Homo sapiens: one gene and its partners. The protein of the gene in region 2 interacts with the protein of the main gene of each other region in a biochemical or structural test. Each region holds a gene or a part of one and is shown on either strand. Other genes may lie near its edges. The genes, in order: CCDC88A, KDR, VEGFD and GREM1.

Region 1 (7,286 bases), on a different chromosome or scaffold from region 2:
CATTTACTAGGTATAGAGTTACAACTGACACTTTATAATAGAGTACATTAAAGCATACATTAATCTAAGTAAAGTGCTTAACAGAAATCCTAATGACTTCAAAATTAGCAAAATACAGCTTATAAAACAATGTATATTTTGTTGCCCTATCAGTTAAATAATTTATTAAGATAAATTTGATCTTATTTTAGCAAATTATTCAAACAAAGCAAAAGTATACTTTTTTTTTCTTTTCTTTTCCTTTAATTTTATAGGTCATTTACAACAGAATTAGGACACCGAAAAAAAATCTAAAGAAACTGAGAGGTGGAACTGAAAATACAGAAGCAGATTTGTGGTTTGGAAAGGAGCTAGTCCTCATGAAAAACAGCAACCTGACAAACACTATTTTGGAATACCGTCATTTTCAAAATATACATATATTTTTTAAGCATAAAACTGCATTTGAAGTGGAAATTAACGTATTTGTTTTTAGCACCTCAGCTAAGTATTTAGGATGCAAAAAAAAAATCTAAATTTTTCTGGAAAAAGAATCATTCAAATAAAAACCATTAAAGTGGAAAACTAAAGTAATATATTTCCCTATTTTTGTGAACACACATTTTTAGCACACAAATTCAAAATCTTCCGTCTAAAAATAAGCACAATAAAGAGACACAGGGGAACAAATTCTGAGTATCTACTGTAATGGCTACCCTTTCTGTCATGTAGGTTCCCCAAAAGAGAAGTCAGTTTATTATCCTACCATTTTGCTTAGGAAATAGTCAGATATTTTGAGGATAAAAAATAATTCCATTACACAGCTGTCAAAAATACATTTACTAACCCTGGAAATAATTGATGTCTACGCTCTTTTTTCCTTTCTTAAGGAAAAAAATAAATATATACATATTTAGATAACATATATATTTCTTTGGGTGCCTATGAAAACAAAACACTGGTTGAAAATGTATAATAGTATAATACTTCCCTGTAGGATCAACATGTACATGAAAAACAGCCCACAAATCTCTTTGAGCACACAGAGAAGTTAACACGAGAGCAATTTTTTATAGATGTGACTTCTACCCTCTTAAACATAAAAATCTAAACCAATAAAATACAAAATTGATAAGGTTATCAGAGCAGAATGGTAGACTTATTCTCTAGTAACAACTATTTATTGATAACACACCAATTTCCCATACATATAAAAGTTCCAAACTACCTCTTCTCATCAGATTCTATTAAAGAGAAATAAGACTAAGTATACATTACTTTGAGCACAACTGAAAAATTCAGTTTGATAAACTACATTAGCGTACTTAGAATACACGTATGCTACAATAGCTGTAATTAGATAAAAGCTGAGTTTTAATTTTACTGATCCAGCTACCAATATACTTTCACTATTCAATTCCCATCTCAAAAGCATACTTTCCTACTTAGTACAAACCCAATATTATAAACACAAAAGACAAAGATTTGCCCAATAAGTCGTTATCTAATTGTTATCAAGACTTGTTATTTGCATTTCAAAACCTGTAAGAATACCTTAAAATGATCCCTAAAATATTAAGCAACCTAATAATTCACACAATAAATCATCTCATCAGGCTTTAGTTATTACAGGCATTTAAATTATTTACTACAGCAAGAGTCCTCACCAATCAGAACTGTTTGAAATTTTCTCTTCTGAAATCTGCTATTACTTAACGAGTTTCAAATTTTGAGCCATTTATTTCTAGATATAAAGGTTAATAAGAAACATTTCTGCATCAAATGCACATAACTTCACAGTAAAGTCTTTTTTCCTCTCTTAGGAAACCAGATTCTCATTTTCTCTCTTATTTTACCAAATTATCAAAGAATACACAATGTGGCTTGGATTTCAGTACTGAAGACAAGTGACAATACATGGTTGACAGAATGAAAAACTAAAGTTTCACAATTTTAACAGGTAAAATATCTAGGTTGTGATAATGGGCTGAGCCCATAACATTAGCATTCCTTTCAAGATCCAATTCTTAAACCACCTGAATATTTCTGGCCAATGAACCAAATTAGGGGCTTAAAACATCGTGTCTCAAAGTTCACCATATGCTATTTCTCAAAGAAAACGTTACCTAGGAAAGAAGGAAGAACTTACATTTGGAGCATGACCTGGTTCAAGAATACCCCATCCACCAAAGCCACATATTCATCAAGGTTGGTCCCATTTCCTGCGGCCAGAGGTCCAAACGTTTTAACCTAGAACAAACAGAAGGATCACCACGACATGAACGCCCACCTCCATCTCTGCAGCCACAAATAACTCAGCAAAATATACAATAAAGGACACCCCACTTACCCAAGTGACCAAAGGGCTGGTCATGAACTGCTCCAGAAGGGGAGTAAAAATTTCGTTCTCCATTTTACAGAGTATGTATTTGAAAAAAGGAACTACCACAAAAATACGCCTAGGGAATTGGTCACTAAACGTGGAAGTAAGTAGAAATCAATGAAAGTCCATTTCGGCAAGGGAGAAAAATCCCATCGTGGAGGAGGGGGGCACTCTCCCTCCTCAAAAAACACCCCAGAGTGAAACGAGCCGAAATCCCAAGAAGTGGCTTCGACGACGGACACCACGAGCAGCAGCCTGCGCTGGAAATGTCTGTACCGGGCGAGGAGGGGCAGAGAAAAGGCATCTGGAGGAGGAGGAAGGGAAAGGGGGCTGGAACCCAAGACAAAAAGCCCGTCAAGGTTGTCCAGCTCCTGGAGGATCCAGACCAGCGAAACTGCTCCCAATGAATCAATCCCAACGGGGGCTAAATGAAATACGTTAAACAGAGACCACGTTAAGGATACCGAGGCGCCACCAGACTCGACCTCGGCGTTCCGACCTCTACACGTTCCACCCACCGATGGGCATGGAGCCGCTTTCGACCCGCGGAGCCTCCACTGCCCGCAGCCCCTCAGTACCAACAGGCAGGGCTCGCCCCTTCCCCCCGAGCAGACACCATTCCTCCGCCGCCCTCAAGCCTCGCCTCCAGCCCCCTTCCCCTCCCGGGGGTGGGGGCTTGAATGTGTGTCCCTAACCCCCCAGCTTCCTAAGCCCTGCCAGCCTTTCAGCGCGTCTCTGGGAATCCCTGGCACAAAATCACCGCCGCGCTCCAGCCTTCTCCGCCCTCTATGGAGAAGCCGGAGTAACGGCCTCAGAACCGCAGTGCCGCATCACACCCCACCCCTCGCCGCCCGCCAGCGCCGCCCGCCAATGCCGGGGGCCGCCGTCAAAGGGAGCGCGCTGCTCCCTCCGCGCCGATATCCTTCCGCCGACTCCCCGCCCCTCCCGTGCAGCTGCCTCTGGATTGTGGGAGAAGAAAACCGCTGCATGAGCGCGCTCCCGAGCGAGCGCGCCCCCGGGCTAGCCTCGCCGCCGCCCAGATCCTGGCGGCGGGCGCGGGCTCGGGCGTGGGCGCGCGCTCGCTGCAGCTGCTGCGGAGACAACCCGCTCCTCGGTTGCGCCCAGGACGGTTGCCTGGTGGGCGGGGACAGGGAAGGCAGAGCAAGGGGTCTGTCTGCTCGCTCGCTCATGCCTAATTATGGTTTATTTCCTCCCCGAGTGACTTCTTTGATACGTGAAGGAAGGGGAAAGAAATCCTTCTCTTATAAACATGAGGGATGCAGACAGCCTTTTTCGGACAGTTTGATGTGTTCTGTAAAGCATGCCTTCTCCCCAGCAAAATGGAATAGGAAAACTCACTGCAGCAAATGGCAGAGGGACTTGAGCCACAACTTGGTGGGGGTTTTTTTCTCCTTTTTGTTTTCTTCCAAATGCAGTCCACTAACGCATGAATGTTCTTCAAAGTTGCAAGTGACATACAGTAAGATTTTTTAAAAACCAGAGCTGTCTGTCAGCACGTTGGTATTCCCTGACTGGAGCAAACATGACTCAGACATTGTTTTTTGGTTTTGTTTTGTTTTTTACTATTTGGGCATGGGTCGGGGGAAACCCAAGCAAAATCAAGAGCTACAAAGAAGAAACATTTAGAAGTCATCCAAGTTGGGTGACAAATAAACAGATTACATATTTGTCATAAATCTCCATGCCACGTACGACTGGGACCTTGAAATAATTTTAAGTTCCCTGGCAAAATCAAATGCTACTCCTCATTTCAAAGGAAAATAAAGACCTTTTTCCCGGGGTAAAATGGGCATATAGAACGCAATCTTTTTTTGATAAAAGATAATATTATAGTTTTATAATGTGTGCTATGTTTACATTACATAAATATTTACACGGAGTATATATTTTAAATTAGCAGTAAAAATGTTTTTGTCATAACACAGTTAAGAAAGAGCAGAATTTCTTAATTGGGTAGTTGAGAACCTGGACTCTGAAGTCTTCCTGCCTGGTTCCAATATGCACCAGCTGTGTGAGCCTACGCACGTTATTGAGTCTCTTTGTGCTTCGATTCCGTCACGTGTAAAGCAGGGCTAATAATAGGGTTAAATGAAATGGCAGCTTATAGTTAAGTGTTCTATAAATGTCATTAATGTTGTTTTTAACATTATTCCTTCAAAATAAAGAACCTTTATGAAAAACTTGAAATATAACCTCTCTGCTTCAGTTACAGGAGAAAGGATCTTGCTTTGAGGAGGGAACTAAATGCCCTTTGAAAATCATCTTAATTAAAATTAGGATGCATTCATGTGGCACTTTGCTAGGTGATGTACAAGTAGAACCTTGCATTTCCCTAGCCAGTACACAAGCCTTCAGACATCCTTGTTGCTAGCAATCTTTTCCATCTGCTCTTGATGACTTTTTAAAAAGCCTTTTAGAGATGGGAGTCTCACTGTGTTGCCCAGCCTGGCCTCAAACTCCTGGCCTCAAGTGACCCTCTCACCTCAGCCTCCCTAGCAGTTGAGACGAGACGTGTGAGCCACCACGCCTGGCTTGGTGACTCCTTCTTTTTTTGTTTGTTTTGTTTTCTGAGACAGAGTCTCTATTACCCAGGCTGGAGTGCAGTGGCACGATCTCAGCTCACTGCAACCTCTACCTCCAGGGTCCAAGCGATTATCCTGCCTCAGCCTCCCAAGTAACTGGGATTACAGGCACCCGCCACCACCCACTGGCTAATTTTTCTATTTTTAGTAGGGACGGGGTTTCACCACGTTGGCCAGGCTGGTCTCGAACTCCTGACCTCAAGTGATCCACCGCCTCGGCCTCCCTAAGGGCTGGAATTACAGGTGAGAGCCACCGCGCTTGGCCTGATAACTCTTTCTTAATAGCAGTTCTTTATTTGGCAAATGAAATACAGACAGAAGGAGAGTGGGCACCAAGGAGACAGCATTGCTTTCAGGAGCAGCCCAGTGCTTGACATACCCACTTTTCTTTGTAATCCCCCAGACGCTTGACAAAACAATATGGAAGTAATTATGCCTATACTGGGTTTATCCTAGGACAAATCAATCTGCTTCATTCATAGGCGAAAAACCAAAAAGTATTAACACCAAATACAGCAGGTTAGGGGCATTTTGAAGTGGTGACTGAAGGGTTAGCACAGGAGTCATACATTAAGATAGTATTGTTTATGCAATTTAGTACCCAGCCCTCACAGAAATCTGGATTCTTCTCTAGAGCCAGATGGCCCCAGATGCTTTCTGGTCTATCTTTAGGTTTTGCGCGCACACACACACACACACACACACACACACACACACACACACACTCAACAAAGAAACATGAGGAGTTAATTGTAAAAACAGGAAACTTTAGACCAGACTGAGGTCTGGAGGAACTTATTTGAAAACCTACCAATTCACAATTCCCTAGTTTAACAGCAGCCTTAAAAATGCTTTATAATATCTCAAGAGTACAACCAGTAATCTTCTCTGTCTGGCTAAAGAGGGATTGTACATTATACCCAGTTTAATGGTCTTTGAATTGCAACATCCTGTAAGATTAAATCCAAAAGTTTCCTATCCACCTTTCACTTAGGAAGAAATTTCTTAAGATTTCTTCAAAATACTTTTGTTTTGTACTTTGTAGTCATTTATGTGTCCTGAATGCATCCTTTCTTGGAAGGTTAAATCCAGCATGAAAGGAGTTTGGAAAAATCATACCCACCTGGTTAGGATGTAAGTTATTTGCTCAGCTGTCTTCTAATCTGAAACTAAATGGTTAGAAAGGACCATGGTCCCATTTAGAAATCTCTAGAGAAAGACTGTCTCCCGTGTATCACAATTGAGGCTTTCTCCTTCAGGTTGCATATGAATAACACAACCCATGTACCAAAAGCACCCATATGAACTTCTACCCATGTCTATCTTGATCTACACTATAGGAAGTGATAGACTCATCCAGAACCAGTTTCCTTGGTGACAAATATTTTTAAGTACGGATTTGCAAAGGTAATCACATTCGTAAGCTAGTACAAGAAAAATACCACAAATGCAGCAGCAGAATGGCACCATTGTTTATAATAGACAATAAGTGGAAACAACCCACATGTCCATGGACTGATGAATGAATAAATAAAATGCAGTATATCCATATAATAGGATACTATCTGGCAATAAAAAATAATGAAGTACTAATACATGCTACAACATGGATGATAGCATTATGCTAAGTGAAAGTCATAAAGAACAACATATTGTATTATTCCATTTATGTGAAATGTCCAGAAAAGACATATCTATAGAGACAGAAAGTAGATTAGCCTAGGGCTGGGGGAAAGTTGGGGGAAAATAGGAGTGATGATTTAGGGATGTGAAATTTCTTTTTGAGAAAATGAAAATATTCTAAAACGATCATGGTGATGGTTGCACAACTCTGTGAATACACTAAAAGCCATTGAGTTGTGTACCTTAAATGGCTGAATTGTATGGAATGTGAATTATGTCTCAATAAACCTTTGTAAAAAAGAATGGCACCATTGCCTCATGAAGATTTTTTTTAAGTCATCAAGAAATCTAGTCTCTAATAGACTTTTTAAAAGGGTGCCTTGATCTAATAATTAAGATTTTTAAATCACCTAGGAACACAGAAGGCTTATATTTTAATTACCCAAGATAGTTTTAAGAGGAAATATAATACAGGGAGAGAAAGAGAAATTAGGCAGGTTGCTTAACTTTTTTGAGCATCAGTTTCCCCAGTAGGGAATGAGCACACTGATTTCATTCTCTACTGGACTTCTGCTGAGACCAGTGGACTCGTTGCTCTGTCCTGTACCTCAACTGAGGAGAGGAGAGGAAAGTTGGAAAGATAAGACAGGGAAGAGAGAAGGGGTCCTCCTTTCAGGCCAGTATCAATTGCTCTTCTC
Region 2 (7,365 bases):
TTCAAAGTGAATGTGTGTCTATAAGATACAAACTAATCTTCAAAAACCACAGGATGTATCTATGACTTCCCACTGACCTTCTTTTTTTCTTTTAAGTTCCGGGATACATGTGCAGAATGCTCAGGTTTGTTACACAGGTAAACATGTGCCATGGTGATTTGCTGCACCTATTAATCCATCTCCTAGGTATTAAGCCCAGCATGCATTAGCTATTTTTCCTGATGCTCTCCTTCTCCCCAACCCACAGTAGGCCCCAGTGTGTGTTGTTCCCTTCCCTGTGTCTATGTGTTCACATTGTTCAGCTCCCACTTATAAGTGAGAATGTGTGGCGTTTGGTTTTCTGTTCCTGTGTTAGTTTGCTGAGGATAATGGCTTCCAGCTCCATCCATGCAGCTGCAAAGGACATGATCAGATTCCTTTTTACGGCTGCATAGCATTCCATGGTGTATATGTACCACATTTTTTTTTATCCCACTGACCTTCTATTATGAAAAATGCCTCCACTTTTGCACAGCCAAGAACACTGCATGCCTGGCAGGTGTAGAGGCCTTCGTCCTCCTTCCTCACTCTGCGGATAGTGAGGTTCCGGTTCCCATCCTTCAATACAATGCCTAACAGAGGAAGAAAACGATCATTCTCATTTATGATGATGTAGTCTGTGAAGTTTTTCAGGGAAATTTAGAAAATATAAATGCTGCCCTTCATCTTGTTCTATTATCTAACTCTGTAGAGTCACATGGGATCTACTGCTGACTAATCTCCTATATGGCTTTCATGAAAATTCAACAGGGCCCCATACTCCAATTCTAAGTCTGTGAAATGAGCCAGGTCATGGACACCAATACTGCTTTTTTTCTACATTACATCAAGAAATAATATGGCTTTTTAGATAACATCCCTGGGAAAGTTCTGCAACCCAAGAGTGATAGCCAAATTCTATTTACCTGAGTCTTCTACAAGGGTCTCATTATCTTTAAACCACATGATCTGTGGAGGGGGATTCCCAGATGCCGTGCATGAGACTTCGATGCTTTCCCCAATACTTGTCGTCTGATTCTCCAGGTTTCCTGTGATCGTGGGTGCCACACGCTCTAGACACACAAAAAGAAAATCACAGAACATGGAATTATAACTTTTGAAATGGTTCTGGTATCAGCAAACTTTTAAACAGTTTAAATTTAGTAAAAAGGAACTTGTTGATATATTAACTTCTGGGAAAATACACTGGTCACTGGGTAAAGTTAAATGAAACAAGTCAGTCAGGACACTGCAAACAGATTAATGGCTTTTAACATTCATATTAGTGATACTAGCTGGTAATCCCATCACAAAAGAAAGGTTCAGGGTCACCTTTATGGATTTTTCCTCTAATTAGACACAGCCTCCCCAGGTGAAAACTTCCCTCCCATGAAGATTCTAGTCAATAATACCCTAGAATCCCTTCAAATTTCTCTTGGAAGTGCCAAATTTTAGTATCATTCAACCAATAATGCCTTACATTTATTTGGCAATTCTTATAAAACTTGTTTACACAATTTGTGTTCCTCACTAGTGATCTTATGTAATGAGCAGAATAGGACTGTTAGCGTTATCTCACAGATGAAATAAATGATGTTCAGCGACATTAAACCACTTGTCCATGTCCCTGCAACTAAGTAAACAGTTGAACTGTTTACAGAATCTGGTGAGGCTAAAAGACCAGTTCAGTGCTATTTCCACTAAAACACAAACAAAACAACAATACCCTAAGGGAAGTCTTGGATTTAAAGAAAATGAAGCCCATGAGTATTTGTTTAAGTGTACAAGAACACTTTAGATTTATTCTTTCTTCAGATCATCAAAGTGCTGTGGAAATATCTTGTCCCAACCAACTGAACATCAAAAGGAATCATGCTGAAAAAATCCACGTCAACACTTAGCAAAATGAGATTACCTCAACAGCGTACTACATTGAAGTCTAAGCAAATGTACTGGATTCTAGCCTATTTCTAAGAATAGGTTTTAGGAAAACAAGTTAGGAGTCCTTAGGGAAGCAAAGCAGCTAACTGCGAGCACATATTTTCTGGGCACAGCTAGGCCAGGAGCCTACTTCACATCTCTTTCTCAATTCTGCCATAACCTTGAAGCCAGACAAGCCAACAGAAAATCCATGTGATCTATGTGGTGTGACTTGAAGGATGCTGGGGATGACTTGACCCCAAAGTATCTCTTATTATGACACCTGAGTCTTAAAACTAGCGAACTTTATGCTAGTGTCTGTCAGAAGGTGCCTCTTCAAATACGCCAAGGCCTCTGATGAAGACGTTACCCTCTAAAACTGTGGTATAGATGAATTTACTTGGGCAATTTCCTTCCTAACAGTAAAAAAAAAACAGAGGGCACATATATCCTAGGAATTGGAAAGGGACACCACAAGAGGAGAAAATGGAGAGAAGTGGCACAAAGAGACGCTCCCCAAATTTGCCTGATTTTCCCACAGACAAAGCCATGGCTGCCCAGCTTTTGCACAAGGCATGAGGTTAGACAAGGGGTAGACAGTGCCTCTATGGAGGAATTTACAGAGCTATCTGCTCACTGAAGTGATCGTCCCATTGACCTTGGGCTACGCTGGATCATGTGGGATGACCCAGAGGTACAGACAGTGAATGTAGCTTCCTTCCCATGGAGTCTTCTAGGTCTTAAACGCAGCCCATCATCCCACTCTTCATGCAGCAGGTGCCTTATTGAGCAGTTAGTATATGCTGCTATGCTCTATGACTAGAGCTATAGCAGGGAGCAAAACAGAGAACAATTCCTGTTCTCATGGACACAGAGACCTCACTGTGCTGTGACTTCCCAGTGGTTGCCTATGTTCTCCTCCTTTCCTTCATGTTTACCACTGTGAATTTCTGACACTCTCCTAGCTCATAGCAGGCATTCCACAAATATTTGTCTATTTAAATAAATGGATGCCCAAGATAAGGCAGAAGTTTCCCTGGTTCAAGCTAATATCCCTTGCATATACTAGTGAATTACTCCATCATCAGGTTTTGTTATTTTCTCCTTTCGATATATCATTTCATTATTATTAGCTTCTTTCTTCCTCAAGGACTTTCGGTGAAGAAGTGTGCACCAGTTTACAACATAATCTCCTAGAGGACAGTAATCTTTGCATAGCACCTGAATTGCACTACATTTAAGGCATTCCAACTGCCTCTGCACAATGATCCAGAATTGTCTCCCTACCTAGGACTGTGAGCTGCCTGACCACGCAATGTCTTTTCTTGGTCTTCCTGTCTTGAGCAAGGCAGACATAGTCTCCTTGGTCCTGCAAGGATGCATTCTTAAGCTCCATGATCAAAATGTCATTTGTGCTATTAGAGAACATGGTGGCATTCAATTTCCAAAGAGTATCCAAGTTCTTGCAAACAGGTGTGGGCAACTCTCCCACATGGATTGGCAGAGGCTGTGGGCCAAGCTTGTACCATGTGAGGTTCTCAAACGTAGATCTGTCTGCAGTGCACCACAAAGACACGCTCTCCTGCTCAGTGGGCTGCATGTCAGGTTGCAAAGTAATTTCAGGACCCCCTAAAATGAAGAGGCCATAGTTATTGAATGGTGATTTAACTTGGTACAGCTCACTATCATCTTGCTGCTTTCAGACTACTACAAAGTACCAAAAGAAATGAAGCTCTATCCGTTCCAGGTGATGTACTACAACTTGACAAACAAACTAGACAATTCAGGTCCCAAAATATCTTATTTGGCCAAACACATTACTTGAAAATGTAAACGAATTCCTCAGATATTTACCACATCTCCACTATGAGCTCTACGCAATGTTTAATATATTAAAAATCCAAAGCAAAATCTCTAATTCTAACAGAATTTTAAAATTAGGTCTTCATTAACACTAACACTCAATGATATGAAAGCTACATTTATGCCAATGAATTAGCCCTGGCTATAATATTCCATTCAGCACAATCAGCTAAAGCTTATCCATAAAACTAAGATGCACAGGCAAAATCGGCAGCATTGGGAGGGCACTGCTCCTATGTCCTTCTGATTGCCTCCATAAAGCCCACCCTCATCAACTGTTCCACAGCAAGCCCACCAATATGTACTGAAGCTCAATAAGCCAGGCACTGTGCCAGACTCTGAAGACTGAGATGTAAATACCACACAGAGCTTGTGGTTTAAAGCATCTGTGAAACCATTCTCTCTCCAGTGTAGTTAGACGCACTGACTTCACATAAGCCCAGGAGATACCTGAGAAGTTGTAATTTATGAATGAAAGCATCAATGATCAATCCAAGTCCTCTTTCCTAAATGCCATGCCACTCACATGAATGGCAAAAACAACAGGGAATTACATAGCTTAGTACCCACTGTGTGAGTGATCCAACCCAAACCTCCAGAGAAGAGTACTTACTGGTCACGTGGAAGGAGATCACCCTCTCTCCTCTCCCGACTTTGTTGACCGCTTCACATTTGTACAAAGCTGACACATTTGCCGCTTGGATAACAAGGGTACTTACAGTCTGTGCGGGGAAAAAACAAATCCCAGGCCATAAACAACGCGGCTGTTTGTGCACAAGCACTCAGTCCAGCAGTCTCCACAATCACTCCAACCTGCCTATGCCATTCCCACTTCTGCAGCGGTTGGACACGCTCAAATTTATGCAATTGCAGGTTGAGTATCCCTTACTCAAAACGCTTGGGACCAAAAGTGGTTTGGATTTTGGATTTTTTTTTTTGGATTTTGGAATATTTGCATTGTATACTTACCAGTTGAGCATCCCTAATCTGAAAATCCAAAATGCTCCAACGAGCGTTTCCTTTGAGCACCATGTCGGCACTCAAAAAGGTTCAGAATCTGGAGCATTTTGGATTTGGGGTTTTTAGGTTTGGGATATTTACTCAATTTGTATAATTATGCTGCTGTGGAGCTCACACATTATATAAAAAGGGCTTTGGAAGCCATGAAACTAATGATGTGTTTTAATATGATATGATACACATTTTTTCATTCTCATGTTTATAAAATCAGAATCACCCTACACAGATGCATAGATTTAATGTCATAGATGTTTTTATTTTTCTCTGATAAGCTATTAATAAGTTAATGGTACTGCTAAAAGTCAATGGTATTTTCAAAGTGACTTAATACGCTCTATTTAATCATCCAGACTATTTGATTATTAATCTCCAATATGCCTCACATATTATTGTACCATCCTTCCATTAAAGAGAGAGAGATTTTCAAATTTTAAAACTTCAAACTCACTTTGTTTTTTCCTTCAATTAGAGCAAATTGATTTTTATTAACTTCAATTTTATTTCCTCCCTGGAAGTCCTCCACACTTCTCCATTCTTCACAAGGGTATGGGTTTGTCACTGAGACAGCTTGGCTATAAGAAAGAGATAACAGCGCATATTATGATTTAATTTTTCTTTAATTAGAGTCAAGAGTAAGGAAAAGATTCAGACTTTGGTTATTCTGTTCTTAGAAATAACTTCCAACGCAGCCTACCATGGTACAAGACTTGGCGCCAATTAAAAATAGGCATTGACAATGAAGGAAAAGGTTCTAGGTAGATTCATTCAGGATACAGGAGGGAAGCAGCTATTCTGGGAATAAACCTTCATTCATAAATTGGATCGACAAGACAATTCAAGTTAATTTAGTTCAAAGGAAGGCAAGGAAACTTAGAAGCCACTGGGCTCCTTAAAGTAATTTCTCTGGGACCATGGTCTCTGTGAAGGAAATGATCAGCAGCTGAGGAAGAAGCTCATAGTGGCCATTTCAAAAACAACAACAGGAAGTGGACTGCTTAGGGTGGTGGTGGGTTGGCTGCTGTTGTTGTGTTTTTCCCTAAGGATGTCTGGACTTGTGTCAGAGCATGATAAGCTGGGCCTGAGACCCTGAGGACTGGGGCTGGGTCTATCACTGCCTCTCATCTATCAGCATTTCCTCTGAGAGATGGATCTTCACACACACAAGAAGGAGGGATGTGGTATTCACCAGCCGATTGGTATCGGGAGAAAAACCAAAGACTGGCAATTAGCAAACTGAGCAAATAGCCTGTGTTTGGAGAAGTGTACCTCACGGCTAACCTAACAAGGCTGAGCTTAGCTAACCCCAAAGGAGGATACTCCAAGCAAAGACATCCCCTAAAATGTAAGACACAGAGAAAGATGGATGGAGATTCAGGCTACCTCTTGAGAGAAAACTTTTTTTGGTTTAGGCTTCTCCATTTAGGATGGAGTCATATCATAGCTCAGCTGTAAGAAATGCAAGATGGCAGGAAAGCAAAGAGCATGTGGCCTTACTCACCTGGGCTCGTTGGCGCACTCTTCCTCCAACTGCCAATACCAGTGGATGTGATGCGGGGGAGGAATGGCATAGACCGTACATGTCAGCGTTTGAGTGGTGCCGTACTGGTAGGAATCCACAGGAGAGATTAGAGATTTCTCACCAATCTGGGGTGGGACTGAAGATGGGAAAAACAACTTTTGAATTGTCAGTCAGCTTTGAAGAATGGGAAATAGAGGATTTTAGCAACTAAAGCTGACTTTCTTTAAGCATATGATTTTGCTTCCACTTTCTTTTTCGAAGAACACCTAGATGTGGAAACAAGAGACCTGAGTTCTAGTGATACTCATAAAAATAACAACTAGCCAGGCATGGGGGCTTATGCCTGTAATCTCAGTATTTTGGGACGCCAAGGTAGGTGGATCGCTTAAGCCCAGGAGATCAAGACCAGCCTGGGCCACATGGTGAGACCCCATCTCTACCAAAAAAAAAAAAAAGGAATAAAGTAACGAAATAAAATAAAAATGACAATAAGCTAATAATAATAATAAACTAACAAGCTGAATGACTTTATGGAAGTGTTGAAATCCTGTGCCTCTCATCTGTATTACAGAGATAGTTCTCTCTGTCCTCTCAAGTTTAGGAGATCAGGGAAAGGCTACAGAAAACAGCTGAAATAGCACAGTAAATACATTTATTATGTGCCAAGCATTGTTTGAAGTGCTTTGCATGAATTCATTCACTTAATCCTCACAACCACTATTACTGTCCACAGCTTTATACGTGAGAAAAAAATGAAACAGAAAAAAATGACTCGCCCAAGGTCACTCAGTTAACGAACGGCAAAACCTGGAACAAACCTAGACACTCTGACTTCTGAACCCAAACACGTAAACCACCTCATGTTAAAGGAAGGTGTAAATCTTTAGAGAATGCATTCCTGCCACCATCATCTGAGTTTTTCATTCTCTCTCCCTCTTCCTCCCTCCCTCCCTCTCCACTCCCTTTCCCTCTTCCCCTTTCTTCCTTCTCCCTTCTCTCACTTCCTTCTTTCTTCTCTCCCTTTT
Region 3 (7,286 bases), on a different chromosome or scaffold from region 2:
CTTCTCTAATGGAAAGCGATTGTTAGCAGTGGAGCTGGGACTCGAACCCTAGTCTCCTGACCCCATGTCTTATGTTCGCTCCACTATACCAAAGTTCTACATAACAAGAGGTTAGACACACCATTTTATACAAGAGGGGGGCTTCAGAGGCTTAATTAGAGAAGTGATGAAAGCTATAATTTGAAAGAGAATTATAGGTAACTATCAAATAATTTTCTTGTTCACAACCCTTGTAGTTGATCAATTTAAAAACATGCTTTCTGGATTCAGTTTTCTCCTTGAAGATTTGAGGAGATAAGCTTCATCAGTTAGCTTTAGGGGACTCTAAGCTTCCAATGCTTCCCTGTATAACAGAGGTTATACTTGTTTCCTAAAGTGTGGTCCATGGACCAGCAGTATCAGCATCACTTGGGAGATAGTTAGAAATGCAGAATCTCAGGCCTCACTCCAGACCTCCTGAATCAGAATCTGCATTTTAATAAGATTCCCAGCTGATTCATGTGCACGTTATAAATTGAGAAACATGGCAGACTACCCCAGAAAGTGTCAAAATGGAAGCCTAGAAGCACACCATTCTTACAGAAAACAGTTGGGGGATGGGAGTACTGCTCCACAAGTCCCAACCATAGCAAAATTATGAGGCACAAGAATTTGGTCCTTGACTCAGTACCTGCTCCCATCTTCCAAGTTGCATTTCCCTTTCCCCTGCGTGTCCTTTAAAAAGTTGTCTTCCCCAGGGTACCCTCTTGGGTTTATTGTTTATTCTGCATATGTTAACTCTCTTTTTCTTTCCTACCTGATATAGTCCAAACCTCCATTTCCAGATGAAATTTCTCTCATGAGCTCCAGATCCATAGTTTCAACAATGTACCAAAAACCTCTGCTTGGGAAACCACTTTATTGTCTCTAGTACTTCTATGTTAAAATACTCAGAACTGGGCCGGGCGCGGTGGCTCATGCCTGTAATCCCAGCACTTTGGGAGGTCGAGGCTGGCAGATCACTTGAGGTCAGGAGTTTGAGACCAGCCTGGCCAACATGGTGAAACCCAATCTCTACTAAAAATACAAAAATTTAGCCGGGCATGGTGGCACGTGCCTGTAATCCCAGCTACTGGGGAGGCTGAGGTGTGAGAATTACTTGAACCCGGGAGGCGGAGGTTGCAGTGAGCCAAGATCGCACCACTCACCACTGCACTCCAGCCTGGGCGACAGAGCAAGACTCGGTCTCAAAAAAAAAAAAAAAAAAAAAAAAAAAAAAAAAGAAAAGAAAAGAAAAACAAAACAAAAAATATCCAGAACTGAACACCTTGCTCCATCCAAAGCCTCCCACGTCCTGTATCTCAAATACCCTTAACAATTCCACCATTGACTCAGCCTCCCAAATTAGACACCTGCTCTTCTACCTTGATGCCAAAGTCTTCTTTAAAAATTATAAATCATATTATATTACTCCCTACTTAACCTTACAGTGATTCATAATCACCTGCAAAAGTAGGTCCAAACTTCTTCCTGTAGATTGCATCCAAAGCCCAGAAGGGTCTGGTTTCTTCCTATATTTCAGATCGCCATTTTTTCCGCCTTTGATCCCTCCTTCCACCACTGTACCCCTATCCCCTCCAGTATTCCTCCAGCATACTAAGCCTGAACATGCCTTTCCTCCGTGTGTGACTGCTCAAACATCACTCCCTCTGTGAATCCTTTCCTGGATTTCTCCTCCTCCCCCTTTCTGTGTTGATTTTATAGTTTTTACACTTTTATCCTTCCATATTTCAAACAGTTTTGTAATGATTTCTTTTCATATCTGTGTGATAGATTTGAATCCTTGAGGAGAGGGAGTCTGCCATTTATTTGTCTTTCATCTTTATGTCTCTAGCTTCTAGCACAATGTCTGTCATTTAATGGGCATTCAGTACATAATAGATAGGTAATTGAATGAATGGATTTAGATGCCTGGGTGTTTTCTTTCTACTTGTATTCTATTCCCCACATCCTCTCCAAAGATTTCAGCATCATCAAGACATATTATCCTGTGTCTTCCTTCTGAAGATTTAAATTATAGTGATCACCAAATCCATGTTGATATGATAACAATGGTTAAGAAGTTTGAATATGTTATTTTCTCTAAGCAATACAGTTGTATATTAATCAGAATCTCCCAGAGAAAGCCCCTTAGAGCAGGCAGTTCCATAAAAGGAATGTCAGGAACTTCTGCAGGCTGGATGAGGACATACACTGAGTGAACAAGTCTGTCAACTGCTCTAAAGACACTGTCAATGCCATATAAAAGCTGGCCTTGTTCATCTAGCAGATCATGGGGGTGAGACAGTCCAGTGCCTCTCTGCCCCTACAATATATGAAGAAAGGGGAAGAAACACACATTGCCTCCTGGTAGATTAGGGGAGGACTTCTTGTACATTTTTAGCAAAATCCGAGTTCAGACCCAGCAATTAGACAAAAGGGTCAGCAAACTATGGTCGATGGGCTACATCTGCCCACTGCATGTTTTTGTAAATGAAGTTTTATTGGGACACAGCCATACCTATTCACTTTTGCATTATCTATGGCTGCTTTTGCACTTTGATGAAAGAGTTGAGTAGTTGAGACAGACACTGTTTGACCCACAAAATCTAAAATACATACTATCTAGCCCTTCCTAGCAAACATTTGCCAACCCCTAGAAAACTTTTAAAAAATGATGCTCTTCGACTTGAAATTTTTATAATCTTCTGTTTATTGTCAATAGGTGCTGCTGATTTTCAAAAAATGACTTAGAATCCTCAAATAAGTATACAGCCTTATATGCTGCTTAGACACCAAAGCTATGATAAGATTTGTCAGTTCTTTGTATCAGATGGGTTCAATTCTTGACATCAGCTAATGTTATAAAAATAACTACAAAATTGGTTGTAATAGAACCAAATCTAAGACTCTTTTTAATAAAAAAGATCACCATTGCTGGTGAGAAACCTATACTGAATGGGTGAGATGCCATTGCATTTATCTGAAGTTTCGTCTTTATAATCAATAATCATATACAATCCTAGTCAAGAAACTCATCTTACAGTCCTTGGGGATTGAACACTGTGAAAATAAACTTTTACTCTTCGGATGTGCTTGGATTTTGTTTTAAATTAAGAACTACAGAAATATATATCATTTCTAGTGGTAGAGGAAAATATTGCCACCCAGAACTTTCTGAATGTCTCTTTCTGCCCTAGGTCCATTTGTGATGAACACCAATGAAGAGATTTCTCAAGCTATTCTTGATTTCAGAAACGCAAAAAATGGGTTTGAAAGGGCCAAAACCTGGAAATCAAAGATTGGGAACTAGTGGAAAGCGGAAGAGCAGGTCTTGATGTGTCCTAGAATTTTGCCATTTCTGAGATTGAGCCATTGAAGGCATTCCATTTCTAAAGCTTATTTAGCCGGTGCTTCTAAAGAATTCCACACTAACGTGATAACATGGTTTTTGTAACAATAAATGTAGGATATTTCCTGGCACATGCAAATAAACCTAATCATTGTTTCTTTAAAAATCAGTGTTTTTCATTTGAGATACCTAAGTTACTAAGCTTCTGTTTAAAAAGTCGTTTTGTGTATGTTTGCCTTTTTTTGCATGTATGGATGGATGTTTTTATTATTTTTGTGCATGTGCAGGTTTTAAAAATCATATTTGATTGCTTTCTGTGTGTCATTGGCAGCAGATGCATGAGCATCTGAGGTCCCTTCTTAAGCAATCCCACTGAGATACAAAGGTCAAAGCTATGTGCTGGGGTTTCATGTTACAGGTTATCTGCTTTAAAATAACGGCAGCCCTGAACATTTGAGTCAGTTCTTAAAACTGCCCTGCTATTGGTAGGGACGCAACAGGATTACAGCCAAGACTTCTCTGCATTTTCTGCCAAAATCTGTGTCAGATTTAAGACACATGCTTCTGCAAGCTTCCATGAAGGTTGTGCAAAAAAGTTTCAATCCAGAGTTGGGTTCCAGCTTTCTGTAGCTGTAAGCATTGGTGGCCACACCACCTCCTTACAAAGCAACTAGAACCTGCGGCATACATTGGAGAGATTTTTTTAATTTTCTGGACATGAAGTAAATTTAGAGTGCTTTCTAATTTCAGGTAGAAGACATGTCCACCTTCTGATTATTTTTGGAGAACATTTTGATTTTTTTCATCTCTCTCTCCCCACCCCTAAGATTGTGCAAAAAAAGCGTACCTTGCCTAATTGAAATAATTTCATTGGATTTTGATCAGAACTGATTATTTGGTTTTCTGTGTGAAGTTTTGAGGTTTCAAACTTTCCTTCTGGAGAATGCCTTTTGAAACAATTTTCTCTAGCTGCCTGATGTCAACTGCTTAGTAATCAGTGGATATTGAAATATTCAAAATGTACAGAGAGTGGGTAGTGGTGAATGTTTTCATGATGTTGTACGTCCAGCTGGTGCAGGGCTCCAGTAATGAACATGGACCAGTGAAGGTAGGTGAGCTCAATTTTTAATGTGATGAAGTTCTTTTTATTGGCTCATACAGAGGACTTTCTTTGCCCTCACTATTTTTGAAACAATATAAAAATGCAGAACCATCCTAGTAGTGGACTGGACAGGATATATCCTGCATTTCTTGGTGACTGTTCTGTTTCTTAGTCTTATTAAACTTCTGGCCATGAGTATTTGAAAATGCTGGGGTGGGGGTTGGTTGTTTTTTGAAGTTATGGTAGAACATGAGCAGTCTGGAATCTTTTTGGATGGAGAAGTTTCTCCTCGGTTGCATATGCAGATGGCACAGTGGTTTTTTAATGAAACATTGATTTGTTTTTATGACTGATAACTTTGTGGGCCATTTATTTTCAGGTCTTTGTGAGCAGCAGAGGTTAGTTTATTCGTTTGGTAAATTGAAAATTGCAGTGCTTTCTATGAACATTTTCTATCTGCTTTTGCAAATTACCAATTGCTGCCATCCAGAAAAATGTTTTCTCAGAGAGTGTTTGGTTTTTTCGCTTCTTGAAAGGTGTAAAATTCAACACTAATCAAATCTTTGGTTCTGTGAGCAAGCATCAAATAGAGCTTAACGAACAGAGAGTAATGCAAAAAATTAACCAGAATGTTGCTGACTGCTGGAACAATACTTAGCCCAATTTTATGCATTTCATGGATTATATATATTTTAAGCTTCTATTTTGAAAATGATTCGGATGTAATTGTTTTGACTGAAGTGGTGCTAAATCATTATTGATTTAGGAACTTCTGGCCTTGAAAAGACAATTAAATGTGAGTTTGAGTTTTTGTAGCTGTTGTTTAGGACGTGCATTTTCAACAGGGGTGATATCGCCCCCAGCAGGGGAAAATTGGTTCGTGGAGGGATGAAAAAGTTTTACCCTTTTGATACATCACGCACAGACGTACATACAGTACATATGGTATGTAGTTTAAAATACGTTATACATTCAAATTGCATAGGGGGAAAGTGTCTTCAAAGGCTCCTGGCTGGTGTTGGTGGCCTGGCGAGGGTGGGGGCTGATATTTAAAAATGTTGAACACTGAGCTGGAGGTGAGTGGGAAGTCACCTTGTCTGGCAGCCAGCACTTTTCTAACTTCTCAAATTCCAAATTTACATGGGAGAAATCACAGTGTTTGGCTCCATTTTACTGCCACCAGCCTTGATATTGGATCTCAAGGCCAGATTGTAGGTAAATGGGAATCTGACTGTAAGCATAGGTAACAGGAGAAAACGGTCTGACTTGTTTGAAGCAAGTAAGACTTTTCCGACTGTCCAGCTTTTTCGTAAGTTCATGAAACAGAAATCCTTTAGATGTGCTGGGCTCCTCGAGTTTTAAAATATTTCCATTTTCCTTGTAAAACATCACTTTATCTGATGGTATAATAAAGGAGACTGAATTGTTGGACATAAGTCATATTCTTTAGGTTGCTCAGCTCTTTCAAAGAGCACAAGCACCAAGAATGTCTCAGGTGTCCTGGGCACTGTGAAGTTTTATTTATTTATTTATTTATTTATTTGAGACGGAGTCTCACTCTGTCACCCAGGCTGGAGTGTAGTGATGCAATCTCAGCTCGCTGCAACCTCTGCCTCCCGGGTTCAAGTGATTCCCCTGCCTCAGCCTCTCGAGTAGCTGGAATTATAGGCACGTGCCACCATGCCGGGCTAATTTTTTGTATTTTTAGTAGAGACAGGGTTTCACTGTGTTAGCCAGGATGGTCTCGATCTCCTGACCTGATGATCTGCCCGCCTTGGCCTCCCATAGTGCTGGGATTACAGGCGTGAGCCACCGCGCCCGGCTGGCACTGTGAAGTTTTAAATGCTTTGAATGTACTGTTAATATATAAATTTGTTGAATGGAGTAACGAAGGAAAGCAGCTGAATTTGCATGTGACAGAAAACAAGTTGTTACACGTGGAGGATGCAGCATTATATACTTACTAATACGATTAGCAATTTTTTTTCAGAATATATCAGAATTTCCTTTAAAAAGTGAAGCTACATATACTGAACTTATATCCACCCTACCCCTCGCTCAATTAAATTATTTCTGATATGAAGGAAAGGATTGCCTATAGCTAAACAGAAGTTTTGGCATAGATATGACTGAGTGGTAAGGGATAATGAGATATATAATATTGGTTATAGTTTTCTTTTTTCCCCAACTTTTAAGAAAAGAAAATCTAAGAGGAAATAATGTTTCTAAATGTTAAAGTTCTTCTTGTTAAAATTAAAATGTAGTGTGAAAACATATTCATGGTGGTAATGGTTTAGGGTGGTGGTATTTGAATTTTTTGTTTTTTTTTTTTTACTTTTTGAAATAAAATGTTTTATTTATTATAAGAAATTCATGGTCTTCCTCGGTACTTGGTCCATATGTATTTCTTTCTCCTCACCCTCCCCTCTTCTAACCACCTCTTTTCCAGAATGGATGGTGATGCCAATTTTGCTCCTAGGTTGTCCTCCAGCCACCCCCAGCCCAGTTTTCACTTTCTAGCTTTGAAGATTGTCCAGTTTTCCAGCTTAGACTAGCATTGCCTCTACGATAGTTCTAGGTATCTGTGAAGATTTTTTTTTTTCCTGTAGCAATCATGAAATAGCTACTAGTGCTCTGGACGATTGTGCTTAATGCCATTTGGGTGTAAGGCCTCCTAATTTCATTAGTCTTACCACTTGTGTTTGCAAGGATAGCTGTTTGGAGTCAGCAGTGCATGGAACATGTGAACTGAGACAAATCTGTTTGAAAATCTCAACTTAAGATTTCAAATCCACTGTGTATACTATTTAGCTG
Region 4 (8,352 bases), on a different chromosome or scaffold from region 2:
TAATTTTGTGTTTTTAGTAGAGACGGGATTTTTCCATGTTGGTCAGGCTGGTGTCGAACTCCCGACCTCAGGTGATCCGTCCTCCTTGGCCTCCCAAAGTGCTGGGATTACCGGTGTGAGCCACTGTGCCTAGCCCAGCCAGCAGTTTAAACCCAATTCTATCTAGCCCCAAACACAGGTCCTTAACCACTGTCCTATTGACACCCAGTGCTGTCCTTAACAGTGGGTCAATGGATATGTTTTCTAATGCAATACAATTTGAAGAGTGCTATAAATAAAATAATTATCTATTTTGTATCTTCATGTTCACATGTGAATAAAAAGATTTCTCTTGTCCCAGGAATTCCTGTTGTACTTTGAATTTCTAAGAGCATATGTTAAAACTAAAGAAAATTCCTTGCAGATCGAAGACACGGGCTGGTAGCACTTGCCTGATGGTTGCCTTTTGGTTAGAGGCTGCAGTCACCTCCCCTAACCACTGTCCCCCACCTGCCTTTCCTTTACATAAAAGGTTTATATTTCCTGGCTGTCCTTTACTCTCTGTTGTGGAACATGTTCCACAGCTTTGCTGTCAACAAGCAGTTCTTGGGGGAGGTGTCTGCGGCATGAAATTTCTTTGCATTTTATCACTTTTAATACTTGACCATTCAGACTGAAGGCATCTTCGGCTTAGTTTCAAAGACAGGGTAGGCAGCCCTCATTCAGAGATGTAGGACATAAAAGGTTTTTATCCTTCCCTGTGTAACTACTCACATAAAGACCGCATTAGCCAACCTGGATTTCCTACAGAGCGTGGGTTACCAAAACATTTCACTAAAAATGAACTTTTAAGAAAATAGGAAACCTGTGAAATTACAAAGTTTACAAAAGACTCTAATTCCTACAATGACCTGGAGGTTAAACACACACACACAGACACACACACACACACGCACACATACTGCCACTACCCTGCTAAAAATCCCTGAAATAGTTAATATTAACAATTTGACAGTGCCATTTATCCAGAGATAGTAATCAAATCACCTACTGTTATAGACTTGGCTTGGGGGGCAGTGAGAATATATAGTTTTCTTAAGATCTTTCCCTCCTTGCTTTGAAAAGTACATCCCCCCCTCAAGACTCTCATGCTCCCCCTCCTTCCAAAAAAAGAGAAAAGGGGAGGGGGAAGCCCTAGGGATGAAAGAGGACTCCTCACCCTAGAATGGGGTTATCTTAACCTCTTCTACGCTATTTATTTAACTTGTGTGTACAGCCAGAAGGAAGCCACTACTCTGGGGTCCCTGGGACAGCTTAAAACCCTAGTGACCCACTTAACACAATAGATTGTTTTAATCAGTTCGTGTCCTGGCACCATCTCGAAGGGGAACATAAACAGACGCGCACACCGCTCAGATTTGCTCTTTCCAGCAGGAGATCCAATTACCTATCGGTGGTCACCTCTCTGCCCTCGGACCGTTTAAGAGGGGGATTTTAACCCCTAACGCTGAGGCTGTATTTCTGTCTATAAGAGCCGAGATTCGGAGTCGGTCGAGGAGGGGAAGGCAGTAGACGGATTCGACCCGGGAATGCATTAGGGACAGCTCCGGGCGCGCAGGAATTTCTTCACAGCAGAGGCTGGTCACCTGCCGTCCGTCCCTCCCCGCCTGGCCCGGTGACCGTCGCCAGAGCCTGGCGCAGGCAAATAAACGCCAAGCTGGGGCACCCCCAAGGAGGAGCTGCGATCCGAAGGCAATGCCAAGCGAGAGCGGTGGCGCGTCTGTTCTTCCGGAGTCTGTAGTCTACAAATAACTCCGGCCAGCAAGGAGGTGACAGCCCCAATATACCTCCCACTCCCCTGCTATGGCCTTGCTCCGCAAGCTGTGGAGGGGCCAGCGGAGCCAGCCAGGCAGCGAGAGAGAACGAAAGACGCCCAGCTCGTTGCAGCCGCCAACCCGCCTCAGCCGCCAGTCCCTAGTCCTCAGGAGCTAGTGAGGCGCTGCAAGGCGAGGCTGGGGCCTCTAGAACACAGTTTAAGGGGTGCGCGCGGAAGTGGGAACCAGCCGGTGGCCGCTGCCCGGCGCCAGAACGTCTACCATTCAGCCCGGGCGTGCGCGGGGCGGGGAAGAGGCTGGAGTAGAGAAGCGAGCGCCCGCGAGTGCGTGGCCGGTCCGCGAGCGCGTGTGGTGTCTGCCTTGTGAGCACTGCGGGTTCGCTGGACCCCGCGGCCAGGGCCGCGCCCCGCACCGCAGCTGTCGGATTACCCACCGTTCGGTTTTCCGCTGTGGCTGAACACAGCGGCTCTGCCCTTGCCAGTCTCCATCTCACCTCGGGGATCGGCAAATGCACACATCATGGATTCTCCGGATGCTCCAACCCGCGGACTCCAATGGGCGCCCCAAGACGCCCCCAGACCCAGCGCGGCGCCCCAAGCACATGGGACCCTCTCAAGGCAACTCGCCGCGCAGTCAGCGGCCGACTAGCAGGTCCGGATGCTCCTGCGCTCTGGCGGCCTGGACTTCGCGCCCTCGCTAAGCGGGCGCGTCTGCCAGGCGCTGCTGCCACCAGCACCAGGAGCGTGTTCGGGGGCCTCCGGGAGGTGGAAACGGGATGTGGGGGTCATCCTGCCCGCTCCTGACAACTTTTTTTCCTACGTTTCCCTGCAGACCCAGAGCAGCGAGGTCACGGTGTCCGCGGCCTCAGCAGGAAGGACCCCGCGATGGTTCTTCACAATTCACCCCCGCGAACAACGCACCCGAGCCTGCGCGCACGGAGGGCTGCCGCGCGTGGAACTGAGCGGGTCCTGGGTTGGTTTGCGGCCCTCTTCCCTCCGCCCACTCACATCCCTGCCGGGTGCGTCCGCGCTCACCTGTCAGTGCGGCGGGTCCTCGGGGCCTGCGCTTTCGACGCGTGGCGCTGAGTGCGGCCGCGGCCAGAGCCGCCGGGGCTCGGCGCGGGGTCAGCGGGACCGAGAGTGACGCGGCGGCCGTGCACTGGGTCGCCCGGTCCGCGGAAGGCGCACCGAGTGCCAGGCATCGCGCCGTCTCCCGTTTAAATGCCGGCGGCAGAGCGCGGCGCCCGGGGCCGCGCCTCTCCATTGGCCAGGCGCCGCCGCCGCCGCCAGACCCGCTATCCGCCCCCTTTCCCGGTACTGCCCCCGCCCCCCGCACCCCTCCTGCTTCCCCGCGGGGTCCCCTCTCCGCCCGCCTCGCCTCTTTGTCTGCTCCCCCCGCCCGGGCCGGCTGGGAGAGGTCACCCCAGGGAACCGCGCCTGGAATGCACAGCAAATCACATTTTCCGCTCCCGTTGGAGAGGGAAGAGCGGGAGGAAATCCCCCCGGCTGGCGGCCCCTCATTCCTTCTCTGCCCCAGGTCTGGGCTTTCCCTGTCGGCCGCCCGGCATCGCCTGCGTTGGTCCCGCGCTCAGTAGCGGAGACTGCGCTGGGAAGAGCGAGATCTCCGTGGGATCGTGCCAGATTCGGCCATTCTTCCCCTCTGGAGGGAACGGGACTGCGGGATGCTCTGGTCGAGCGGCCGTCGTGGCTCCCCGGCGGCCCCGCCCGAGGCCCCCAACTTCGAGGGCGCTGACCCCGGCGCCCCCGTTAACCTGGCGGGCTCGCTGGCCGCCAGCAGGAGCCTGTCGCCAACATGACACCCTGCTCTCCTCGCCCGCCAAGGGTTCTTTCAGCCCAGATGCCGGCGGCCTCCCCTGTGAGTGTACAGAGGGGAGTCACGGGAGGAGAATAAAACTAAATGACCGTCAAAAGTCAAGGCTTCTGTTCCTAAATTATCTTAAGAGACAGAGAGAAAACAGCCACTGGGCGAGAGGGGTTTTCTGTAGCATATCAAAGACGAATAAGTCAGGAAAATAAAACGTTAGATGAGGAAGTAACTTCCCAGAAATTTAGGACAAAAACCTACCGACGTGTAAAACCAATGTCACATTCCGGATACCAAGTACATAAATAGTTTTCGAAAGATGAGCGAACACTTTCATTTGTTCTCTTAGCCTGAAAAATTGGTTCCTCAAAGAGGCCGTAAGTTTTGTGTGTTGAAGCTAAAGTCCGTGCAAAAATTAACACGTCTGCAAGATCTGCAGACCAGCTCCATCAGCCACGTCAAATGAAGACTTTGAAAAAGATTTGCTACAGAAGGAAATATGAAGGTGTCTGTATTGTCTAACGCGAAATAAACAAAACAATGAAATCCATCAAAAGATACTTACGAAACACCCGTAATTTAAGTACTTGACTAGGAAAACAAAACCAGACCAGAAAACAGCCTATTTTTTTTTTCTCTTTAGTCCGGCGTTAGGGGGAAGAAGCAAGAAACATCTACTAGATGCTGTTAGGAACGTGAAATAGATATTTTTAAATAAATGAAGCAAGAAGGACGTCTGCATTAGTATCCTTAAAATCTTAGTCCTCTCAATGTTTTGTTTGTGCAGATGGCAGTTTCTACACATGAACTCGAGGCTGCACTTTACAATTCTCAATCAGTTGTTGTTAAGTCATGCAGTGAGCCACAGTTTGTAGTTGCCTACAGAATGGGAGCATTGAACCAGCTTGAAGACCTGTCTTGCTCACGTGGGCTCCTGGAGAGATAGGTAATCAGAAATACACAAAATACTTAGGCGATGACCAGTTCAGTCGAAGCCCACCACCAAGCTGTATTGGAGCCAGCTGTTCTCCCAACGTGCAAACTGCTGTACTTCTCCCCACAAAAGGGAGCATATTTTACAAATTCATTAAGTCCTCCTCATCTAAAATAAAAGCTTTAGTCACTTCTTTTTTTCCCAAGACTTATATACTGCCCCAAATCAAATACAAAGAAGCTGAAATTACCTCCCAAAATGGAAGTGATTTTTTTTTTTTGGAGCCCTGACACTGTGGTTTTCTCTATCTCCATGTATCAAATCATGATGACTCTTCCTCATGCAGTTTCTCAGGCCATATTTTTTATAATAGAGCCCCCACCTCCTCCCCACAACACACGCCCCCTCTCTGTATCCCAAAGAGATAGAGAGGGCTATGCATCACTGCATCATTTTTCTTCATTCTCATTTCTCTCTCCCTTCTCCCTGGCATTATAGTATTTCCTGCCACTAGAATGTAAGGTTCATAAGGGCAGGGATTTTGTCTAGGTCACTTTGATTACATGAAGCACATAGAATATAGATTGTCTAACACAGCACTCAGATTCAATAAATAGTTGTGGATTGAGAATGTTGAGCACATTCCCACTAAGATTGTCAGCTGAACCAAATGCTGAGGGTATAACCATCGTGGATAGGATAAACACAGGCCCTCACCTCAAAGAATTTATAGTCTAGTATGTTTGTAAATATTTATATAGAAACACAAGTTTTTTGCCCAATATTTGTGTTTCCACAGCTCCTAACAAGTTCTTGCAAACCATTGTCCAATCAGGAGGAAGGCATAAGGATAAAAACTCCCTAGACCGCTCTAAACATGGTTACATAACTAAAACCTGCTTTTAGTAAGGGGAGAAGAAGTAGAATGACTCGATGTAGTCATGCCTAAACCATGATGCCTAAACCACGATCACTAAATGATTAATTTTATTTAATGAAAGTACTTTCAAACTACTTTGAGGTTGTGAGAAGAGTAGATTCTGCTCAGCCACTGGTTCGTAAAAGTAAAGTCCATTTCCTCTTTTTTTGCCCACCTGTGTTTGGAATGTGCTAGCCTCTCTGTAACCCCAAGAAGCTAAAAGAGGGCTACTCCCCAGGTTTGGAGAATAACTTTGAAGACCTTTAGAGAAGAGTTTTTACTTAGATCTGCAAAAGCTATTTACAGCTGTTCATCCAATTGCAGAGACTACGTATGCTGTCTTGCATAGGATTAAAAAAGAATAAAGCCCTTTACACAGTTGGAACTGACCTTGTATGCCCTTTCTAAAGAAAAAAAGTATTAACCTATAAACTTGATAATGATTAAGTAAAAACATATTTACAAGAGTCAAATACCAGTTAAATGGATCATATTCAGAATGAATTTTTCTTATAAGTTAGTAAGAAAAAAATCCCCACAAATAACCCAATAGGAAAAAAAAATTGCACATGGCCAAAGCACATGGGCAGGTAATTCACAAAAAAGAAACCTGGACAGCCAGTAAATATAAAAAGATGCAACATTACACCAGTAAATCAGAGAAATATAAACTGAAATGAGAAGATACTGTTGCTTATCTACAAAGTTACCAAAGATCTAAAAGTCTGACAATATCCAGCAATGGAAAAGGTAGAGAGAAGCAAGCAAGCAAATGCATTGCTAGTGAGAGGGTAAATTAGTACCATCATTTCAGAAAGTAATTTGTCAATTTGCATTAATATTAAACATGCACTTAGTATGCCACCCAGACATTACACTTCTAGGTAAACACCTTAGAAAAATTTGAACGTGTGTATGAGGACTAGAAACTTGTATAAGCATGTTTATCAAGGTATTGTTTGTAACAATCTTAATGTCCATCAACAAATATAGGAGAAGGCATAAGAAATTATTTTATTCATATGGCAAAATGCTACATAGCTAATAAAAGAAATTGATTAGATTTTTATATTTTAACATAGAGCTCAAAACATAGAGATGCTTTTTTTTAAAAAAAAAAGGAAGCTGCAGAATGATATAAGTAGTATGATACCATTATGTGTATTTTATAGTAAACATATAAAAATAGCATAAATTGCTTGTGAAACATATGGTCATGTGCATGGATAAATAGTGACTTGGAATCCATACCTTTAATGATGTTCACCAGAATGAGGAGGGGAGGAGGTGGATCAGGCATGGACGACAAAAGAAATTTCAACATTACAAACCATTTAAAAATCTTATGTCTTAAAAAAAATCTTGAAAGAAATATGACAAAATGTGGACAATTTGAATTTCTGGGTGATGGGTACATGGATGTGTTTGCTAGATAACTCTCTCTACATGTTGATAATGTTTTAAACCCTCAAATTTAAAACAAATGTGATGTTTCTATTATGATTTCAAGAGTGATTTTGAGCATCATTTGTAAACTGAACATTTTTGCTTCCCATGTGTTCTTTGTAACAAGCTCCAATCTGAGTAGGCATGCTTTCAGAATGCAAACAAGCCCTTATGTAAGTGTGTATGTCTGCTGACCTGTCTGAGGTGTATGCCTAACCAGTTTCCTGTGTATGGAAAATGCACGTGCATGTGAAAATTCTGGACAATGTTGCCAAATACAGGTATATGGAATGAGTTATTCAGGACCATTGTAATACAATTCTTGCCCTATTTCATGCACATATTTATTGCATATACTCCACGTGCAGTGCAGTATCAAAAGGTGAAGGCTTCAAACTGTGAACATAATCCTTCACAGTCAATAGTTCTGGCACAGTGGGAAAAAGCACGGAACTCGGAGTCAGGAAAGTCAGAGTAAATTCCTGATACTTCCCCTTAGAAGCTGAATGTCTCAATTAGGTATTTAAAGCCTCTGGGCTGAAATTCAACCATCTGTATTATAGGAATGGTGATAACACCCACTTCTGGGTAGATGCTGGAATTAAGTAAAACAAGCTCTGTGAAAGTGCCAGGCACCTAATAAACATCAGTGTCTGCATAGATACTAGAGTTCAACTGGGAGCTAACACAATAAAACAGTAAGTCTAATATCAGCGTCTGCTGGGTCTTATGTATCTTTTTTTTTTTTTTTTTTTTTTTTTTTTGAGGCGGAGTCTTGCTCTGTCGCCGAGGCTGGACTGCAGTGGCGCGATCTCGGCTCACTGCAAGCTCCGCCTCCCGGGTTCACGCCATTCTCCTGCCTCAACCTCCCGAGTAGCTGGGACTACAGGCGCCCGCCACCACGCCCGGCCAATTTTTTGTGTTTTTAGTAGACACGGGGTTTCACCGTGTTAGCCAGGATGGTCTTGATCTCCTGACCTCGTGATCCACCCACCTCGGCCTCCCAAAGTCCTGGGATTACAGGCGTGAGCCACCGCGCCCGACCGGGTCTTATGTATCTTTATATTCACTCTGGGTAACGCAGGGGTGGCACACGGCAAATGCTTGACAAAGCTATGAAATGAGTACTTGCACAGGGAGAAGGAAGGAAGGGAGGAAGAGAGGAGAAGAAAATAAGGGGAAAAGAAAGAGATAGAGGAAGAGATAAAGAGAGGGATGGAGGGAGGAAGGAAGGAAAGAAGGGAGAGAAAGGGAAGGAGGAAGACAGGAAAGAAAATGAGTGATACCTTCCAGTAAATGGCACAACAACTTTTTTTTTTTTTTTTTTTTTTTTGTAAAACCAGTAAACAGTTTTACCAAACACTTCTGGCTCTTTTTTGCCTGCACTACAAGAATCATGCTAACCTAAAGTTACC

Evidence for each region.
Region 1: the proteins of KDR (region 2) and CCDC88A form a complex in vitro, tested with the Homo sapiens proteins (one study listed by BioGRID).
Region 3: the proteins of KDR (region 2) and VEGFD form a complex in vitro, tested with the Homo sapiens proteins (one study listed by BioGRID).
Region 4: the proteins of KDR (region 2) and GREM1 interact in a biophysical measurement, tested with the Homo sapiens proteins (one study listed by IntAct).

What each region holds. Positions count from the first base shown.
Region 1 is NC_000002.12:55,416,688-55,423,973, forward strand, and holds the start of CCDC88A (girdin), read right to left. Parts: upstream 3,170-7,286; 5' UTR 2,393-3,169; coding exon 2,330-2,392; intron 2,230-2,329; coding exon 2,129-2,229; intron 1-2,128. UniProt on the Homo sapiens protein: Bifunctional modulator of guanine nucleotide-binding proteins (G proteins). Acts as a non-receptor guanine nucleotide exchange factor which binds to and activates guanine nucleotide-binding protein G(i) alpha subunits.
Region 2 is NC_000004.12:55,101,418-55,108,782, forward strand, and holds part of KDR (vascular endothelial growth factor receptor 2 precursor), read right to left. Parts: intron 6,477-7,365; coding exon 6,320-6,476; intron 5,394-6,319; coding exon 5,270-5,393; intron 4,524-5,269; coding exon 4,415-4,523; intron 3,568-4,414; coding exon 3,226-3,567; intron 1,092-3,225; coding exon 945-1,091; intron 612-944; coding exon 480-611; intron 1-479. UniProt on the Homo sapiens protein: Tyrosine-protein kinase that acts as a cell-surface receptor for VEGFA, VEGFC and VEGFD. Plays an essential role in the regulation of angiogenesis, vascular development, vascular permeability, and embryonic hematopoiesis.
Region 3 is NC_000023.11:15,381,049-15,388,334, reverse strand, and holds the start of VEGFD (vascular endothelial growth factor D preproprotein), read left to right. Parts: upstream 1-3,921; 5' UTR 3,922-4,388; coding exon 4,389-4,478; intron 4,479-7,286. Other genes in the region: PIR (pirin), read left to right, coding at 3,219-3,331. UniProt on the Homo sapiens protein: Growth factor active in angiogenesis, lymphangiogenesis and endothelial cell growth, stimulating their proliferation and migration and also has effects on the permeability of blood vessels.
Region 4 is NC_000015.10:32,712,658-32,721,009, reverse strand, and holds the start of GREM1 (gremlin-1 isoform 1 precursor), read right to left. Parts: upstream 3,007-8,352; 5' UTR 2,849-3,006; exon of another isoform or gene 2,646-2,848; intron 2,527-2,645; exon of another isoform or gene 2,145-2,526; intron 1-2,144. UniProt on the Homo sapiens protein: Cytokine that may play an important role during carcinogenesis and metanephric kidney organogenesis, as a BMP antagonist required for early limb outgrowth and patterning in maintaining the FGF4-SHH feedback loop.